Linked DNA regions of Homo sapiens. The protein of the gene in region 1 interacts with the protein of each later gene in a pairwise test. Each region holds a gene or a part of one and is shown in the gene's direction. Other genes may lie near its edges.

The links.
Region 2: the proteins of ARFGAP3 (region 1) and SYPL1 interact in binary tests that used the Homo sapiens proteins (3 or more experiments, as listed by UniProt).
Region 3: the proteins of ARFGAP3 (region 1) and PRDX6 interact in binary tests that used the Homo sapiens proteins (3 or more experiments, as listed by UniProt).

The regions. Positions count from the first base shown.
Region 1 is NC_000022.11:42,847,234-42,854,346, reverse strand, and holds part of ARFGAP3 (ADP-ribosylation factor GTPase-activating protein 3), read left to right. Parts: intron 1-6,714; coding exon 6,715-6,833; intron 6,834-7,113.
Region 2 is NC_000007.14:106,095,210-106,102,322, reverse strand, and holds part of SYPL1 (synaptophysin-like protein 1), read left to right. Parts: intron 1-3,040; coding exon 3,041-3,165; intron 3,166-4,425; coding exon 4,426-4,633; intron 4,634-7,113.
Region 3 is NC_000001.11:173,480,322-173,487,434, forward strand, and holds part of PRDX6 (peroxiredoxin-6), read left to right. Parts: intron 1-1,004; coding exon 1,005-1,161; intron 1,162-5,039; coding exon 5,040-5,186; intron 5,187-5,933; coding exon 5,934-6,080; intron 6,081-7,113. UniProt on the Homo sapiens protein: Thiol-specific peroxidase that catalyzes the reduction of hydrogen peroxide and organic hydroperoxides to water and alcohols, respectively. Can reduce H(2)O(2) and short chain organic, fatty acid, and phospholipid hydroperoxides.

The DNA.
Region 1 (7,113 bases):
GGCCAAGGGTGAATTTTCTTGTTTGTGGAAATCCTTCTTTGTTGCTATACCATTCCTTACTTTTATATAGATTGGGTTATTCATTCAACAAGTATTCATTAAGCACCTATGCTATGCTGGGCACTGTGTAGAGCATGAAAGGTATGTACACTGATGGTATGTTCCTGTCCTCAGGGAACTTATAGTCTAGTGGACAGATGAAGGGCAGATGCAGGACGGCAGGTGGTATGTTTTCTGCTCTGAAGCACAGTGTGGTGGAGCGGGAAGAGTGGCTCTGGGAACAGACTGCATGGGATCCAGTCCCCATTGTGGGCATTTCCACTAAGGAATTACTAAGCAGTGGCCACTTCTTATCTGTCATACTTAATTCAGTAATTCCTTAGTTTTCTTTAAAATGGAGATCAAGATTTACCGCCACCATCCCACGCCCGGAAGGGCTCCTCATGCTCTCTGCAGCATGGTGCTTCTGTCGCTTACAGAACAACTTGCCTTTGATGATTTTCAAGAGAGTTGTGCTGTGAGGTGGCAAAAGTATCCAGGCAGCAGGATGCCAGTGCCTCAAGGAAAAAATGGTCCTTTTCGGCAATGTGTTCGGTACTGGGGGCTTGGCCCTTGTGTATTACCGCATACAAAAGACTTTTTCCAGGGCTTTGTATTACCAGTTGGCATTGGAGCAGGTGCATAGCCATCCCAAGGCACAGGGAGCTCTGGGCCCTCTTCTCAACATTCACTGTCTCAAACTCACCAAGCACAACTTTGTGGACATTGCTGATGCCAAGTTGAAGATTCCTAGCTCTGGATCCAAGTCAGAGGGCCATCTCCATGTCAGCTCATCCAGAAGTGCCCCTTTCAGAGGTGGCACCTTGATGAGGTCTTCCTAGAGCCCAAGGATGGCCAGCAGATTCCCTTGTTCAAGCTCAGTGGGGAGAATGGTGAAGAAGTGAAAAAGGAGTAGAAACGATCCAAAAGACCCAGCTTTCTTCTAGTCTGGCCTTCCCTTATCTCCACCATGTGCCCACCAGGGGTGATGGCCCATCTGAGTGACAGACACTCCCGTAAGCTAATTTTCCAGCCACCAGTGGAATGATTGTATGTGCTGGCATATGGTAATTTTGGTATAATTCTAACTTGGGCACAACGAATGCTATTGTCATTTTTAAACTGAATCAGAAAGAAACTCTTATTATAAGATAATTTATGTGAAAGTTCTTTGTTTAAGAAAGCACATGATAAAAGGAATCAGAATTAAGAAAACATTCATTGATTTAAAAAACAAATAAATAGGCCGGGCGCGGTGGCTCACGCCTGTAACCCCAGTACCTTGGGAGGCTGAGGCGGGTGGATCACCTGAGGTCAGGAGTTCAAGACCAGCCTGGCCAACATGATGAAGCCCCGTCTCTACAAAAATACAAAAATTAGCTGGGCATGATGGCGAGTGCCTGTAATCTCAGCTGTTCGGGAGGCTGAGGCAGGAGAATCGCTTGAATCCAGGAAGCAGAGGTTGCAGTGAACCAAGGTCACGCCACTGCACTCCAGCCTGGGCAACAGAGAGCGACTCCATCTCACACGCACACACAAATAAAATAAAATTAAATAAATAAAATGGAGATCAAGACTAGCTACATAATTTGTGAAATGTACAAAATGAAAATGCAGGGCCCTTGTTTGAACAGTATTAAGAATTTCGGCCAGACACAGTGGCTCACACCTGTAATCCTAGCACTTTGGGAGGCCAAGGTGGGTGGATCATCTGAGCTCAGGAGTTCGAGACCAGCCTGGGCAACATGGTGAAACCCCATCTCTACTAAAAATACAAAAAATTAGCCAGGCGTGGTGCCATGTGCCTGTAATCCCAACTACTCGGGAGGCTGAGACAGGAGAGTTGCTTGAACCCAGGAGGCGGAGGTTGCAGTGAACCAAGATCACGCCATTGCACTCAAGAGTGGGCGACAGAGCGAGACCCTATCTCAAAAAAAAAGAATTTCAAGATGAGGCTAGGCGCGGTGGCGCCTGTAATCCCAGCACTTTGGGAGGCCGAGGCAGATGAATAGCTTGAGCTCAGGAGTTTGACACCAGCCTGGGCAACATGGTGAAACCTCATCTCTACCAAAAAAAAAAATTAAAATTAGCCATGCATGGTGGCTCATGCCTGTGGTCCCAGCTGCTCGGGAGGCTGAGGTGGGAGGATTGCTTGAGCTCGGGAGGCAGAGGTTGAAGTGAGTCGAGATCATATCATATACTCCAGCATGAGACCCTATCTCAAAAAAAAAAAAAAAGAATTTCAAGATGAGACAGCAGAGCATTAAGCCAATCACACACTCTTTTATTCTAAGTGTGGGGCCCTCTGCGACTGCATAGATCACACACATGCCCAGGAAGCTGGCCCTGATGGGGATGATCATAGTACCTTCTACTAGTACCCTACTAATGAAAGCGTTGTTAGGAAGATGAAATTGGCTAAAGTGCCAACAATAGTGCCTGAATTAAACACTCAATATTAGCTGTTATTATTATTTGTATACTAATTATTCTCATCATTAAACAAAACAAATTGTCAGTCAAAAGCTATTTCTTGCTCATCACCATAAGAACTGATGTTCTGCTTTAAAAGCCACATCTTGACTTTGGTTTGGGATTGCATATCAAATCAAAGCGCAGTCCCTGCTTCCAAAGCATAGCCTCCTGGTATAGCAGGAGGATCAAGGCAGCATTTATGGGAGCCAGACCTGTATTTCTCACCACTTCTGACCTCCACACGTCCCAGTCTCCACTTGTTAGCTCCTCTACCCCTATAAACTGCTCCACCATGTGCATTCGCATTTAGTGAGCACCTGTGTTGTGCCAGGCATGGTGCCAAGCTCAGGTGAATAAGGTAGACATGGCCCCCCCCTCATGGGGCTACATTTTAGCAATCCCTTAGCTTAGGTGATGGGTCCGGAGGATGCCAAAGCTGCCTGCCTCATTAGGAACCTCACTGCTCTCTTCTTGTAGCCAGTCTGGTGACCACCTCAGAAGTGATTCTCAAACTTGGCCTGCTCTGGGCTGTGTACCCAAAATCTCTGCCATCACCTCTACCAAAAACCCTTTGCATCCTGTCCTTGCTTACTAGGAAACAATCTTGTAACTAATTGTCTTGCCCACTGGACTGCTAGACTGTGGGCTCCATGTGGGCAGACTTCCTGAACCACGCTGGTATGTCCACTTGGTATGTGCCAGGTACACTTGATGGTAAGTGCACAGCAACTGGTAGTTGAGTAACTAGGTGAGAAATTACACACAGCCTGACGGGGAAGAACAGCACCTTTTGGCAGAGTCTGTCGTTTTGTTTGATGCCCCACAGAAGAGGGTTCTCCTAATGGCCATCACCACAGGGCGTTTGAATTTGCGCGTCTGTCTTCCCCACTTCTCAGTGAGCTCTTTAAAGACTAGCACCAATAAGCGTTCAGCTAGTGTTTGTGCTGCTACTTTTTCATACCTCATCACCTGTCACATGTCTGACATACAGCAGGTGATCAGTAAACACCAAAGTAAATCTCCTGGCCTCTTTTTGTGTCAGTTGTCACTCCACCCCGATTATTCAGTGTGCGATCAGTGTGAGCATATTGTGGTGAGGGGCTTTAGAAAACCCACTCGTGTTTCCTCTCTTGTATTGCCCTTGTATTGCCCTGAAAAGACCAGAAGCCAGATCTTGCTTGATAATGATAGGTTGGACAACCTTCACATAAGTGATTCTGCCTATAAAGTATATCTTTTTTTTTTTTTTTTTTTTTTTTTTGATAGCAGGGTCTCACTGTTGCTGAGGCTGGAGTGCAGTGGAGTGGTCTCCGCTCATTGCATCCTCCGCCTCCCAGGCTCAAGCGATCCTCTCACCTCAAACTCCTGAGTAGCTGAGACTACAGGCACGTTCCACCACGCCGGCTAATTTTTTTAATTTTTTGGTAGAGATAGGGTTTCGCCATGTTGCCCAGGCTGGTCTCAAACTCTTGAGCTCAAGCGATCTACCTGCCTTGGCCTCCCAAAGTGCTAGGATTACAGGTGTGAGCCACTGCACCCAGCCTATATATCTAATATGTATTTTTTTTTCCTGCAAAAAGATTAAAAACACCTCTATTAGAGGAATTTTTTCCCTATTCGGAGTTTAATGAGTTATAAATACTACTTTCCACAACAAGCACTGTGTATTTTATGGGCCCAGCACACTTCCGACGCGTGACTCTGCTAGTTAGCACTGTGTATTTTAAAGTACTTTTATGCTCCTGTTGGGCTTCAGTGTCAGTGTTGAAGGGGCTAGTAATTTTTGAGCTGGCAATACGTTTTTAAAGTTATTCTTTTGAGTAACAAATATTTACTGAATGCTTACCATGGGTAAGCCTATTTTTCAGGCTGTGTGTGAGATTTAAAAGTACACAACTATTCAGCAAACACTTATTGTGCGTTTACCATGTGCAGGTTCTGTGCTAGTGGACAGGAAAGTAAGGTGACAGGAGCCGGACGTGGTGGCTCACACCTGTAATCCTAGCATTTTGGGAGGCCGAGAGGGCCCAAATTGCTTGAGCCCAGGCGTTCAAGACCAGCTTAGGCAACATAGCAAGACCCCCATCTCTACAAAAGAAAAAAAAAAATCTGGGCACGGTGGCATACACTTGTCCTAACTGCTTAGGAGGCTGAGGGGGGTGGATGGCTCGAGCTCAAGAGTTCGAGACTGCAGTGAGCTAGGACCGTGCCACTGCACTCCAACCTAGGTGACAGAGCCAGACCTTGTCTCTTTAAAAAAAAAAAAAAAAAAGCCATAAAGCAGCGAGCTAGGACCGTGCCACTGCACTCCAGCCTAGGTGAGAGCCAGACCTTGTCTCCTTAAAAAAAAAAGAAAAAAAGCCATAAAGATTAGCAAAAGGGAAAGATTCTACCCCTGTAAGAGCTCTCAGTGCCCTCAGTGGGCAGGGAACGTAGTCCTCGGTTATGAACCTGCATCTAAGAGTTATCAAAGTGACCTGGACAGAGTGAGGCAGTGGAGGTAGAGAAGGGCACAGCATTTCATAAAGGAATATCTCTCTGTATTAGTCATCTATTGCTGTGTATCAGATCACCCCCAACTTGGCATCATAAAACAACAGATAGTTCTGAGGGTCAGGAATTTGGGGGTGACTTAGCTGGCTGCTTCTGACCCAGGGTCTTTCATGAGGCTGCAGTCAAGCTGTTGGCCCAGGGCTGAGGTCATCTGGGAGCTTACTCACATGGTGGTTGGCAGGCCTCCTCTCCTCGCTGGCAGTTGGACTGGGGGCCTCAACTCCTCAGCACTTCACCCTCTCCACAGGGCAACCTGAGTGTCCTCAAGACATGGCACCTGGCTTCCCCTAGAGCTAGTGATCCAAGGTGGGGAGGGAGAGAGGGGGAGAGAGAAAAAGAGAGTGGGGGAGACAGGAAAAGGCCATAGTGTCATTTGTAACCCAATCTCAAAAATGACATGGTCATTTCTGCCATATACACATAGACACACAGATCACCTTGGTAAAGTGAGGGTGGTGGAGATTACACGGGATGCAAATACCAGGAGGTGGGTTTCACTGGGGCCATCTTGGAGTCTGGCTGCCACAACCTCTTCCTCTGGCTGGGGAGAGAAGCAATATGCTCAACAGCCTGCCATCTGGTATAGCCACTGCCAGGAAGGATGGTAGGGCTGGAGTGTTTCTAGGCAGGGCTGCTTCCCTCACTAGCATTCCTTTACATGACTGGTAGGATCCCTGCTGATGCTTCAAGGATAAGGCATGTTTGAGATGGTACACAAACCTAAATTCTCTTCACTATGTATAGTGTGCATTGTTAAAATATATACATGATAGCCCGGGCGCGGTGGCTCACGCCTGTAATCCCAGCACTTTGGGAGTCCAAGGCGGGTGGATCACGAGGTCAGGAGATCGAGACTATCCTGGCTAACACGGTGAAACCCCATCTCTACTAAATATACAAAAAATTAGCCGGGTGCGGTGGCGGGCGCCTGTAGTCCCAGCTACTCAGGAGGCTGAGGCAGGAGAATGGCATGAACCTGGGAGGCGGAGCTTGCAGTGAGACGAAATCGTGCCGCTGCACTCCAGCCTGGGCGACAGAGCGAGACTCCGTCTCAAAAATAAATAGATAAATATATATATAACATAATCTGTAATATACTGTATAAATCATGTAGTAAACTGGGCACAGTGGCTCGTGCCTGTAATCCCAACACTATGGGAGGCCGAGGCTGCCAGATCACCTGAGGTCAGGAATTCGAGACCAGCCTGTCCAACATGGTAAAACCCCATCTCTACTAAAAGTACTAAATTAGTTGGGTATAGTGGTGTGAGCCTGTAGTCCCAGCTACTCCGGAGGCTGAGGCAGGAGAATCAATGGAACCTGGAAAGCAGAGGTTACAGTGAGCCGAGATTGCACCATTGCACTCCAGCCTGGGTGACAGAGCGAAACTCTGTCTCAGAATAAAAAAATACATAATATAGTAATTAACTATACTAATTTATAATTAATATAATTATATATAATAATAAAAGAGCATGAAATTTGAGGCTTTTAAAAAAACCTAGGTGAGATATTTTCTAATAATACAATCCCAAAGTTTACATTGTAAAGGTTAAACAGTTTTCAAGCTAAGTCATTTACTGTATCTTACAGGATAATTTATTTGGCTAACATAAATTAGTAACTGAATTTAACATTTTTTTTCAGGTGTGTTTTGATTGTGGTGCCAAAAATCCCAGCTGGGCAAGCATAACCTATGGAGTGTTCCTTTGCATTGATTGCTCAGGGTCCCACCGGTCACTTGGTGTTCACTTGAGTTTTATTCGGTAAGTGAATCTTCTCTCATTGGGGTGAGATTGATTACATTGTTACATGGGTGTTTTTTTCCCTTTTTTCTTTTCTTTTTTTGAGACAGTGTCTTGCCTTGTCGCCTGTCACCTTGGCTGCAGGAGTGCCATCATAGCTCACTGGGCTCAAGTGAACTCAGCCTCTACAAAAAATAAAAAATGTTGTGGTGTGATGATGTATAACTCTAGTCCTAGTTACTCAGGAGGCTGAAGTGGGAGGATCACTTAAGCCCAGGAGTCAAGGCTGCAGTGAACTATG
Region 2 (7,113 bases), on another chromosome or scaffold:
GGAGCTCGAGACTGGCCTTACCAACATGGTGAAACCCCGTCTCTACCGAAAATACAAAAATTAGCCGGGCATGGTGGCAGGCACCTGTAATTACCCCTGCTACTCAGGAGGCTGAGGAAGGAGAATTCCTTGAATCTGGGAGGTGGAGGTTGCAGTGAGCCAAGATTGCACCATTGCACTCCAGCCTGGGTGACAGAGCGAGACTGTGTCTCAAAAAAAAAAAAAAGTTGTAATCTTTTTATAACTGAGTCTCAGAAAAGACATCCCATTTCTTCTACAGTACCATATTCTATTCTGTAGAAGCAAGTCACTACATTTAGTTGACACTCAAGGGAAGGGAAATCAGGCTCCATCTCTTGATGGGAGTTGTATCAAAGAGTTTGTGGGCATATCTTTAAAACCACCACATTCCTTTCCTCCGTGATCTACAAATCAACTCTGTTAGATACAATTTGTCTTATACACACTAGTCTATTCCTGGCCTTTTTATTCTGCTCCATTGGTTCAATTTGTGTATCTCATTTCTTTTCTTTTTTTTTTTTTTTAATTTAAACGTGGGTATATGCTCAGGACTCATTTTCTGGCCTTTTCACTCTGTGTATTCATGCATATTTATTCTGAGAGAGTATTGATTCTTCCATCTTTACCTTCTTTTTTAACATAAAACATTATTTAGTACAAATAATGAAAAATGATTTCATGACACATTTTCCAAGGAAAGTTACTTTTACATATTTTGAAATCCTGTAAAAACTGGGGATCACCTCTTAACAGTTAAGACCCCAAACTATGTGCTGGACATTACCTCAGACTCTTCCTATCTGTAACCAGATTCTTTTCATGTATCTTTTTTGTGGGGGGGGGGGGGGGGGGGGGGGGGGGGGCGGATGGGAAAAAACAAACCCTTGACAATTACTATAATGTGGATTATGGCCTACAAGATTCAAGGCCCTGGAATAATCCATGGGAAGCATTATGTCAAGTGTTCCACAGTGAATATTTGATATCAAATCTGCATTGAATATTATCTACTACCAGTTGCTGAGTGTGTGTGACCTTGAACAAAACGAAGCCCCTGACCTCTTCAAGTTTCTATTCTAGGGAAAGACAGACAAATTAAGTACTGTGTCAAGCAGTGGTAATTAGAACAGAGCAGAAATAGAGTAGAGGGAATAGGTAGTGCGGGGTAGGAGTGCTGTTATTTGATATAGTGTGGTGAGGGGAAGGTCTCTCTGAGAAGGTCATACTGGAACAGGAAGCTATGGAAGTGAGGGAGTGAAGCATGTATTCCAGGCAGAGGAAATAGCCAGTGCAAAGGTCCTGAAGGAAGAGTTTATCCCGTGTCATTAAAGGTATCGCATGGAAAGCAGTTTGTGTATACAGATTAGGTAAAGGAAAAAGTAGCAACATGAGGTCAGAAATATAAGGGAAGAAAGGATCTTGCAGGCCTTTATATGAACTTTGGTTTTTATTCATAGAGAGCTCAAAAGCCATTGGAGGGTTTTGAGCAAAGGATAACATTTTCTGCCTTACATTTTTAAAAGATTGTCTTGGCTGTTGTGTTGATAACAGACTGAAGCTGGGGCAAGGGCAGAAGCAGAGAGATCATTTAGAAGGCTGTTAGTGCAAAATTCAGGCAAAAGGTGATGGTAGTTCAGATCAGGAGGCAGTACAAGTGGTCAGATTGCAAATGTATTTTGAAAATAGAGCCATCACCACTTGCTGAAAGATTGAGCTCCTGGACTTTAACAGCGCATCTGGAATTTTTTGCTTACTTGTGTTGTTTTGTAGAAAATTCACAAGTACAAAAATAAAAAGGAATTATTTATCTTCCTTTGAGAGGTGACCAGTGTTAAAATTTTGATGCATAACCTTTCTAGTTTTTGTTGTTTAAATCTACTTTGTATGTAATGAACACTTTCTATGTTGTTAATCTCCAACATTCTATGTTGTTAATTTCCAACAGCTATATAATGTTTCATTGCATGAATGAATGAATGGATGAATTATAGTTTGATTCCCTGTCAACATTTAGGTTGCTTCTAGGTTTTTTGTGTTTTAGATGGTATTTGAGAGAACACCATTCATTTTTTTAAGCATATACATGATTAGGAAAATAAGTTTCCAACAACTTTTTGAGACCTGGAAATACCCACAAGGGAGGTTTAACAGGCTCATGAAATAGTGTCTCTTCTCTGCTGACAACCTCTTGGCTTTACAAATTACTGGTAACTTGTGTTCCAAATAAAAATACCTCCAATTCACCCCTTTTGATTTTATACTAATAAATGAGTCTCCCTCTATATTTCATACTAATACTTAGTGGATACACTAAAGTATGAGCAAATGAATTGTCATATGGGCTGGTACATTTATTTCTATATTATACTCCGGGGAAAATAAAATCACATTTGTCGAGGTTTGCAAATGAATGTTTTAATGTCTTTCACCATCTTAGTTTGTGTTTAAGAATTTCTAGAATGTAGCCAGGCATGGTGGCACACTCCTTAGTCCCAGCTACTTGGGAGGATCACTTGAGAGTTCAGGGCTGCAGTAAGCTATGATTGTGCCACTACACTTGAGTCTATACAACAGAGTGAGACTCATCTCTTTAAAAAAGGGTAGTGGGGGCTGGGCACAGTGACTCACACCTGTAATCCCAGCATTTTGGGAGGCCAAGATGGGAGGATTGCTTGAGTTCAGGAGTTCAAGCCCAATCTGAGCAACATAGCGAGGCCTCATCTCTACTAAAATTCAAAGAAAAATTAGCCAGGTGTGGTGATGCACACCTGTGATCCAGCTGCTTGGGGGACTGAGGTGGGAGGATCACTTGAGCCTGGGAGGCCAAGGCTGCAGTGAGCCCTGATCGTGCCAGTGTACTCCAGTCTGGGCGACAGAAACCCTGTCTCAAAAAAAGAATTTCTAGAATGTTAGCCAATTTTTAATAATCAGTGTGCTTACAGTTTTAGTGACCCTTGTTTTGGTTGTAGTATTGCTTATCTTTTTTTTCTTTTGTCTTTTTTCATCTTACTTTGTGTAGATTGCTTCTATCTTTGCTTTTGCCACCTGTGGAGGTTTTAAGGGCCAAACAGAAATTCAAGTGAATTGTCCTCCTGCAGTTACTGAGAATAAAACTGTTACAGCTACTTTTGGTTATCCATTCAGGTGAGTTATATTTATTTTAATGGTTTCACAACTCTTTTTACTTTCACAGTGAGTCATTAAGATTTCCAGCAATTTATTGATTGTGGGGGGTAGAAAATTTTAGACTGTATGCTCATTTGTAAGTGATCATTACCTCCCAAACTGTGGTACACAGACCCATGCCTGTCTAAAAACATCTCCTGATCTGTGACAAAATAGTACAGAAAGTGAGAGTAAGCATTTAGAAACTTTTATAACAATGTGATGTTGCCTTGATAATTTTATTCTAACAGAGGATTGGAAATGTAAAAATAAAGCAAACTAGAGATTGTTCTATCACCTTAGTATAAGAAGCCCTAATGTAGAAGGAAACATAACTTAGAAAAATCCAGATTCTCAGTGTTTTTTGTAATTGCTGAATATTAATGTCTTTATATAGTTTTAAGACATATGTATATAAAGAGATTCCATATTTCATTCATTAGCATAAAGCCACACTTTCTTAAAGTAAAATGAGTATTTCATCTGTGAAGTCTTGTTTGACATCAGTATCCATTGAAAAGTTTATTGAATATGTCCTGTGTTTAAGCCAGGGTGGGAATCTTCTTTCACTTACTAATTTTACTTACTTCACCCAAGACTCAATTTTTTGGTCCAGTAATTGGAAGTATTATCTTGTAAGGCTGTTTTGATGATTAAATAAAATCCCCATATTAAAGATAAGTCAGATAATAAGTGGTTAATCATCAAAGCCTCTCTATCTTGTATCCTTTCTCCTAGACACTTCTCACATAAGGGACTGTTACAGCATCTTTAGTGACAAGTTTTTTACAATTTATGGTTGGGAAAAATGAAAGGCAATATTTATTGTTAGCAACTATTGATCCAGGGTTAAAAATGTGAATCATTGTTGTGATTGGCTCTCTTGGGGCTAGTCACACATACTCTGCCACACAGAATGAAATATGATGTCTCAAAGTATAAACCATTTGGTATAATCTCTCCTACCTAATTGTTTACTGCAGGAAGATAGTATCTGGGTATGAAAGTATTTAATTCAGTCTATATTCAATGTATCATAAACTAATACCAGGTATAACATATACATTTATTATGAAAATTTCAGTTTACTTAAATATAATATTTGAATTTTACTTTTTTCCCCAAAGGAATGTTTTTAATATATTTGGGGAGTATTTTTTGAAGTGTCACTCATTGTTTTGCTTAAATGTTTCTGTCTCTGTTGGGAAAGTCCAATAATTCATACATTTATTTTAATAGGTTGAATGAGGCATCATTTCAGCCACCTCCAGGTGTAAACATATGTGATGTAAATTGGAAAGATTACGTCCTCATAGGCGATTACTCTTCTTCTGCACAATTCTATGTTACCTTTGCAGTCTTTGTGTTCCTGTACTGCATTGCTGCCCTTCTGCTTTATGTTGGCTACACGAGTCTGTATCTGGATAGTCGTAAACTTCCTATGATAGTAAGTAATCACTTTATTTTTTAAATACAAAAATAATTTGTATAAGCTAAATATAGATTTTCTTATACTGGAAATAAAAATTCTTGGTGTAAGCCAGTTCAGCATATTTTAGCCTGTGTTTGCCACGAGGTTGAGCTTTCTCCCATTAAGTTTAACTCAATTTTTTTTAGCCTATTTGCACTATAAGGAAAGTTTATTTCTTTTTTAAATCTATTTTAACTTGGAAAAAACTCAGATATGTAATAAAGCACATCAGGTTACAAATAGCAAAAAAATTAAGTCGAAATTCTTTTAATTTGAAGAATTACTTATCACAACATAGTCTCATAACTCTTTCTGCTTCTTACTTTTTTTCTTTCTCTAAAGGCCCACTTTATACTTCTACAAAACTTATTGAGTTTAATTATATCATGGGTTCACAAACTATGTCCCAGAGGTCACTGTCTTATTTTTTATTTTTACTTCTTTATTTATATATTTACTTTTTGAGACAAGGTCTCGCTTTGTCGCCCAGGCAGGAGGGCAGTAGCACCATCTTGGCTTGCTGCAGCCTCAACCTCCTGGGCTCAAATGATCCTCCTGAGTAGCTGGGACTACAGTCACAAGCCACCATACTCAGTTACTTTTTGTGTATTTTTGTAAAGACGAAGTTTTACCATGTTGCCCAGGCTGGTCTCAAACTCCTGGGCTCAAGTGATCTGCCTGCCTTGGCCTCCCAAAGTGCTGGGGGTTATAGGTGTGGCCAGGAGCCTGGCCTTGTTTTTTTAAATAAAGGTTTTTTTTGGAACTCAGCCATACACAATCATTTACACATTGCCTATGGCTGCTTTCACACTGCAATGGTAAAGTTGAGTAGTTGTAACAGAGATAAAAAATAGTTGCTATTTGGCCCTTTTCAAAAGAAGTTTGTTGATTCCTGGTCTATGTCCCTAAACTCCTTAATTTAAAATCAGACCCAGGTAATTCTTATACTCAGCATTAGTGGCAACCATGAACTAATTTTGAATCTTTGAGGTATCAACAAAGGACTTAGATTTGAAGTCCTATACTTTTGGCTTCAGAGCCTACTGAGCTAGAAATATTCTCTGAGATTTAGTTAGTAGAATCTGCCCTGGATTATTGGTGGCAAATCCAGAGAGAAATCATGGTTTTAAGCTACACCTCCACTATAAAAGAGTAACTACAAAGTCAGTTATTAGTGACTTAAAGGGAAAACAGAGGTGTTTTTTATGTGTGATACTGGTCATTCATATGTATGAGAAAACACATCTGCTAATTATTTGTGAAGTTACTTTAAAGGGAAGGCTATTTAAATATGAAGGATTATTAAATAACATTACAAGTTTTATTTACATATTTATTTTTAATTTTGCTGCTGGATCATAAGAATGGAAATGGTAAGTAATACAACAGTCTTTTATCATTCATATTTAATTCTGTTTCTTATGTCATAGGAGACACAAGAAAACTAGAGGTTTTCATAAAATACTTCTCGGTTGTTAAAAAGATAAGACGTCAACTGTTTTAATTTGCAGTGCTTATCCAACATACTTGTTAGGAATCTGTGTCTTCTGCAGACTTTTCAAATCTTATTTAAAAGGGAACTGGAATAATCTTATAGATAATTATATTTTGTTAAAATTCTTTATAACTAGAAGCTATTTCTTGCCATTTTGTCATCCCAACAAATTTTTTTACTAAATCTATCAGTGTGCCCTTTATTTCTCATATTTTGTCTAGTAAACTTTTAAAAATACTACCCTTCTTAAAGCAGCATTCCAATCTATTTTTGTAGGTGGTTTTTGTCTGATAAAACTATAAAACTGACCTAGTTGCATCATTCAGAAACGTAAAAAGTAATTTTCCACCTCAGAATGACCAATTAGTGGTCATATAAAGAGATAATCCAAAATTCCTTAAGTAGGTTTTTATTGTTACATAATGGGTGCTTCTTGTCTATAAAAGTCTAGCTTCTAAATTTAATTTTCAGTTCTATTTTTAATGTAACCATAAAAATATTAAAAGATTTTCTTTGAGAGACTGGGTGCAGTGGGTCATGCCTGTAATCCCAGCACTTTGGGAGGCCGAGGTGGGTGGATCACTCCAGGAGGTCAGGAGTTCGAGACCAGCCTGGCCAACATGGTGAAACCCCATCTCTGCTAAAAATACAAAAATTAGCTGGACATGGTGGTGGGCACCTGTAATCCCAGCTACTGGGAGGCTGAGGCAGGAGAATCGCTTGAACCCAGGAGGTGGAGGTTACAGTGAGCCAAGATCACACCACTGTATTCCAGCCTAGGTGACAGAGCAAGACTCCATCTCAGGGGAAAAAAAAAAAAAGGTTTTTTTTGAGATACCCAAAATTTAAGATATAGCCAAATATGACATTAATTTTTAGGTACTATTAATGAGGACAAGCCCTTTTAGCAATATTCTCAATTCTGTGCTAAGGTGTTTCTAGGAGTATTTCAGTTATGAAA
Region 3 (7,113 bases), on another chromosome or scaffold:
ACTTGGCATCTAGGCTAGATTTAGTTATCTACTAGTTTAGGATCCTGCCTAAATCATCTGGTTTAGGATGGTTTAAGTTGATGGGGATGTGGAGAACTGAGTGTTAAATTTTCCTTTTCAGTTGAAAGAGTAGTTTCTGTTGCCAAGAAGAAGGAAATGGTACTTCAGCTTTCTTCGTGACAGCTTGAAATGTGCTCAAAATTATAAAATCTTAGACAATGATGACTTAGATATTAGTATTTACCTAAGAATTTGCTGTTGTAGAAATCTACATTGCAGGCTATCAAAATTCTACCTGCTTGGTCTGAAGAAAGAAGAAAAAGAAACTGCAAATGAAGAGATAGGTAAAACTGTGAAGGTGCTATTGTTTTGTCAGAGTATAAATATTGGGTGTCATGTTTGGCAGGTAAGATCAGTAAAGTGGTTTTACAAAAGATTTTATATCCACTTGCTTCAGAGAAGCCAAGTGTCAACTTTAATTTTTACATATAAATAGAAGATAGAAACCTATTTATTTCAGATTACATAATTTGTTTATTATTGCAGTCAGGCATTTGTTTGGATTCAGGGCATACTGGGACATCCATTATTGGAGCTGAATGTCAGGGTCTATGCTAGAAAAAAATGTAGAAAAGGATAAGAAGAAATAATTAAGTGTTTTCAGTGAACTACTTGGCTTGAATAGCACAGATTGTATTAGCCAAAAAGGAGTCAGGGTGGCACCATAATTATTAAAGGAGGCAACACCTTAACATTAGTCTTTTTAAATATGTGTCATCTTGAATTTCATGTCTTTGATTGAATTGGGCTATAAGCATAGGCTTCTCTGGAGGTAAGTAGATTGAAAAGCACTCCTCAACAGAAAAGCTTAAAAGTAAATATCATCATAAGCATTCATTTAAAAAAGAAAGCCTGTTTTTGATCCAGAAGTTGTGACTTTTCATTCTCTGTGATGTTGGTGATAACTCTTAATTCAATTGTGACCTTGTTTTTCTTCCTTTCAGATGGGGCATTCTCTTCTCCCACCCTCGGGACTTTACCCCAGTGTGCACCACAGAGCTTGGCAGAGCTGCAAAGCTGGCACCAGAATTTGCCAAGAGGAATGTTAAGTTGATTGCCCTTTCAATAGACAGTGTTGAGGACCATCTTGCCTGGAGCAAGGTTAGTATCAATTGGCATGTGCTTTGAGCCTGAGATTATAGGTCAAGTTATAAATTATGGAGTACTTGGTTTTGAGGTTAAGGTACAAGTAAGCCTTAGGTTCAAAGTTCACTAATTATTTGAAAATTTCAGTTGAACCACACAGTGATCACATTGCTAAATCCATTGGTCAGTCAATTCTCAGCCCTCCTCTTGGCCTGCCAGCAGCATTCAACCCAGCTGATCACTGTACCTCCTGAAACTTTTTCCTTTCTTGACTTCCAGGACACCACATTCTAGCTGTTCCTGCTCACTGATTCTTCATCTCCCAACTCCTAATTTATGCTGAAGTTACCCTGAACTTATTTCTTGGACCTCATCTCTTTTCTGTCTGCACTCTTTCCCTTGGTGAGCTCATCCACTCACCTTTAAATACCATCTATGTGCTGTGATTCTCAAATTTTCATCTCTATGCCAGACTCTTCCAGGTTCATATAACCACTGCCTACCTAGCATCTCTCCTGGGATGTCCAGTCATCTCAAACCTAGCATGTCTAACTAGGCCTCATTCTTAGATCCAGAGTTTTACTCATCTAAGCTAATGGCAACTACATTTTTATAGTTGTTCACACCCCAAATCCAGGAGCCATTCTGAATTCTTCATGTTTTTTCACATCATACATCTGATTTATCCTCAAACTTGTCAGCTCTACCTTCAAAATATGTCCTGTATCATAGATAGAAGACTCACTTCCCAGGGATCTGTGTGACTTACCCTCACCTCTTTTGGGTCTCAACTCACAGGACATTTCATCAAAGCCTTTCTTGTCCTCATTATCTAAAATTATAACTCCTTTTCACGTTCACCATCCCCTTCTCCTCAGCACTCTGCATACTACCTATTTAGTTTGTTTGTTTCTTCCTAGTAGAGTATAAACTCAGCAGGAACAGAGACTCCTGTTTAGTGCACTGCTGGAACAATGCTCACTACTCAGTATATCCTAGGCGATCAGTCAATATTTGTTGAATGAATTAACTGAAGGAAATACCTACTTCTAGCAAAAGAATTTACTTGAACAGTAAATTTGGTGGTCTGAATTTACCTTGAAAACATTTTAAGAACTTGACTGCACTGTGCTGTTAAGTAATAATGATAACTACTTTTTGAGGGATGTATACTAGAAACTATGTCAAACGTGCAGTTGAATAAAAGATGTATTGACTTGTGAGTTAGGGGTCTGTGGCTGCATCCTATAGCAGTTAATGCCAGTTAATCCTAAATATCTGAGACTAGAAGAATCATGTGTAGGAGAAAAAAGAAGGGCAGTTATCTGTCTTGAAGTAGAATTTTTTTTCATTCCTTACACTTCTCAGTGAGTGGTAACTGTAGTTTTTGCTATCATTTTTCATTTTCGTTTTTGCAGTTGAACATACTTTTTTCACTCAGAGAGTTGGAGGGACTTGCCCAAGACTGCCCAATGGCAATGAGATTTCAACCTCAAATCAATGTTCTTTTTAATGCAAGATGATAAAGAGTAGGATTTAGCCTAATTTAGGATAGAATAAAGCCAAATAATTTAGGATAGGTTCTTTGGTGTTCATGGGTGTAATCTAATGCCCATGATGCAAGTGGCAGAGTAGAGAATTAGTGCACAGCAATAATTAAAGTGACATATTGCCAAAGGAAGCGGTTATAGCCCATTATATAATACCTTTTAAAGGACAGACGCATACTCAGGTTTATTTTACCTGCTGAGCTTCTGCCTTAGAAGTTTTCAGAATTGTGATTACATTGAATAGGAAAAAAGTCTGAACTATCAGAAGCAGTGCCGCAACTTTGACAAACAACTGATTATATAATAATCTGCCTCTAGCATGAGACTATATTAATTATTATTTAGCTCTGGTGACTTCATAAGCAGCCAGTGACAACAGAAAGTTAAGATAATAAAATGAAGGAATGTTACAATTTGTTATCATCCGGGAGCCTGAGGCAGGAGAATGGCTTGAACCCGAGAGGTGGAGGCTGCAGTGAGCTGAGATCGCGCCACTGCACTCCAGCCTGGGCAACAGAGACTCCACCTCAAAAAAATAAATAAATAAAAAGAATTTGTTGTTATCCACTTCAGAGCTCATTAATGCCACATTTGTCACATCTCCGTTGAGAAATCCACAATGGTTTTGTATCTGCTATGCCATCAAGCCCCTGTTTTACTTTCAAGCCTACACACAATAGACGTTATTCCAATTTTAAATCCTCTTTTCCATTACTTGCTAAACTCTATCCAACTAAGTTCCTCACTCTCCTATCAATAGTTTATGTACAGAGTTGCCCACATGTTTCATTAATATCGTTCCTGGCCGGGCACAGTGGCTCTCGCCTGTAATCCCAACACTCTGGGAGGCTGAGGCAGGTGGATCACAAGGTTAGGAGTTCAAGGCCAGCCTGGCCAAGATGGCGAAACCCCGTTTCTACTAAAAATACAAAAAAAAATTAGCCGGTGTGGTGGCGGGTGCCTGTAATCCCAGCTATTCAGGAGGCTGAGGCAGAGAATTGCTTGAACCTGGGAGGCGGAGGTTGCAGTGAGCCAAGGTTGCGGTGAGCCAAGTTCGCACCAGTGCACTCCAGCCTGGGCGACAGCAAGACTCTGTCTCAAAAAAAAAAAAAAAAAAAAATTAGATATATATATTTATATATATATATATTTATATATATACACACACACACACATACATATATATACATATGCACACGTATATAATATATATACACATATATATATGTGTGTGTGCATATATATATATAGTTCCTGATTCCTAGAATGCCTTTCTTTTCTCTGTGAAAAATCTTACCCATCCTTCAAGGGCCTAGATAGAAGTCCTGTTCTTTTCTTGAAGCCTTTTGTAACTTTTGGAGTCCTACAAATGGGAGTGTTCGTATACTTCAGTATTTACCATCCACCATTTAACATTAGTCTTGCATTTGCTGCTGCTTCATACTGGAATCATCTCTAACCAAATGAGAAGTTCCTTTGAAGGGAGGAGCCGTGTCTTACTCATCTGTATTCCACATGTATTTACCATAATGCTTAGCCCACCTTAAGTGCTATATCAATGCTTAATCAAATAACAAAACTAGATTTTTTTTTTCTCCAAAAGCTTCCAGGGATAGGAAAAGTAGAAATAAATGGATGAATAAAGTTTTACTAGGGAAGGAGGGAAGTGTATCATTTTTCTTTAGTTCAGACTTGAAATGCTTTGTTTTCTCTTTGAATTTCACCCTAGTTTAGGTTTACTTCTGCCTCTTCACCCATTTATTTTTGACTTGTCCTTCAAGTATATATTCAACTCTCCATTCTTGTGTTTGCTTTGTTTTGTGATTTGTTTTTTTTTTTTTTGGTCATTTCTTATTTGTCTTGTAACTTAGCATCTGAGTCAGGGTGCTTTATGAGGTAGGGACCAGATCTATAAGATTTTCTTTACATATGGCATTATTTCTAGATGTGATGGATTTAACAAACCTATTGTTATCTGATGATTTTTACAGTATTTGGGTACCCAGAGGTACCTTGTATTTGGATCTAACTAAATTATTGCAATTTTAAAGGGGTTGCTGCTATTTTCTCATAGCAGTAAAAGCATGCTGAATTTAAGAGAACTGGGCATGAAAACAGCTTTGGTCCATGATTACAACCTAAGTACTGTACTCTGCTGTTATTCCTGGCAATAATTGGAATGAAGAGTGTTCATCTACTCACTTTTTAAAATTAAAATTGCTTAAAGAAAATTACTGTGATTTGGTCCTCTTTCCTGTCTTGCAAGGTGATGGCTGTTAACTGATGAAATTCAGAGCATGTGTTGGGTTTAGATTCCTCTTTCCCCTTTTACTTGTGTTTCAGGATATCAATGCTTACAATTGTGAAGAGCCCACAGAAAAGTTACCTTTTCCCATCATCGATGATAGGAATCGGGAGCTTGCCATCCTGTTGGGCATGCTGGATCCAGCAGAGAAGGATGAAAAGGGCATGCCTGTGACAGCTCGTGTGGTAGGTCATACAAATTCATTTTGTAGTTAGCTTAACTGATCAGGCTGTATGTCCGTGTAAATGCTGGTACCAGCTAGAGGAGATAGGGGAATATCTACGATTATGAAATAACTGTGTATTGGCGACAATATCACTGATTATCTGTAATGCTGATGCAATTTTCAGCTAAATTTTCCAACTGCTTTATTCATAGTTCATGGAAATCTACAAAAAAAAAGTTGTTTATCCTAAAATGTCTTCCAGAATTGAGAAACCTTTTCATAGCTCTCCTGACTGCTCTCCTGACCGCCCTGTCTTTAAAGTGATGGGCCATATCCTTCTTCATAAGGCAGCTCTGTTTTAAATTTTTATTTGTTCTGTCCTCCGCCCACTAGAAAACAAACCCAATCCCTCATCTGAATAAATGCACAACTATTCAAGGAACAATATCAACTCCCATTAGTATTATTTTTATGATAGTCATCCCCAATTGACACAGCCTTTCCCTCGATTAAATTTGCATATCAGTTTTTCTTACTGGGAAAGCCAGAACCAAATAGAATTCCCTTCTACGTTTAGAAAATAACAGGGAGAAGAAAATTATCTGTATTCCAGCCATCCACATTAGCAGTTGGTGTATCCTTCTAGATGCTTTGTTTTTGTCTTGTTTTTATACCCTTGAACATTATTAATGACTGCAGAGCTTTCTAAGTGGCTTTAATAACACTCAAAGAACTCTTCCTATTTATGCCCCTCTGTGCTTTACAGGTGTTTGTTTTTGGTCCTGATAAGAAGCTGAAGCTGTCTATCCTCTACCCAGCTACCACTGGCAGGAACTTTGATGAGATTCTCAGGGTAGTCATCTCTCTCCAGCTGACAGCAGAAAAAAGGGTTGCCACCCCAGTTGATTGGAAGGTAAAGATGTTTTTAAAAAGCAGTTTCTCTACTTGCCTGAAGGGCCAGTCTCTAAATGGCCAACTTCAAGGTCTGTGTTACCTGTTTCTAGCACGCAAGTACACTGGGAGGATTTTTCCTCATGGCTGAGTTCAAGATTTGCTGAAAGGCCCTTTTCAAGGTCTTTATAACACCTTTTATACACAACACAAACTCCCTATATGGCTTTCCAACTTTTAGATAATTTGGAAAAATTATTGGTCAGAATGATTCCTTTTCCTAATAGAAGGTTTAAAAAAAAAAATTTTATCTAACCCTTCCCTGATGGCAAAATATTTATCGCACAATCTTAATTGGCCATTTCCGTTAAGTCATGGCTGTAAAAGTACTGGTGTATTAATGTCATTAAGTATTTAATTTCTCTTAAGCTTCATTCTTTTAAACCTGTGCTAGAATTCTCCAAAATTTGTTCATAAACTTTTCATCTTTAGGACATGGATAACATCACAAGAGTATCTTAACATTGCTACATTTTTAAAATAATGCTAACCTGAATAGCAGGTTTTGTTTTGTTTTTTTCTGACAGACAAATCACTTAAATTCTGTATCCACTAGTTAACTTATTATTACTTATTTATGTACTTATTGAGCCCAGATAGTAGTGAACTGGGGAGATAGCAGTGAATAATAGAAAGTCCTTGCCCTCATAGAACTTCCATTCCAGTGAGTGGAGACAAACAGTAAACAAGTTTATTAAGTGGTGATAACAGGTGCTACAGGGAAGAATCAAGCACAGATGGGGAGAATAACAGCACAGGGGTGGGAGAGTGACTGTCAAGGAATGCCTGTCTATGAAGGGACCTTTGGAGAAAAACACAGAGAAGATGTGACCAAGGCATGTATACTTGTGAGGGACGAGCACTATAGGCAGAAGGAGCAGTTAGTGCAAGAAACTGGGCCTACAAGTGAGCTTGGCATGTTGGAGGAATACAAGGAAAGCTAGCATGCTTGGAGAAGAAGCTGCAGAAGGTGGGGTGAGGGACAAGAGATGAGA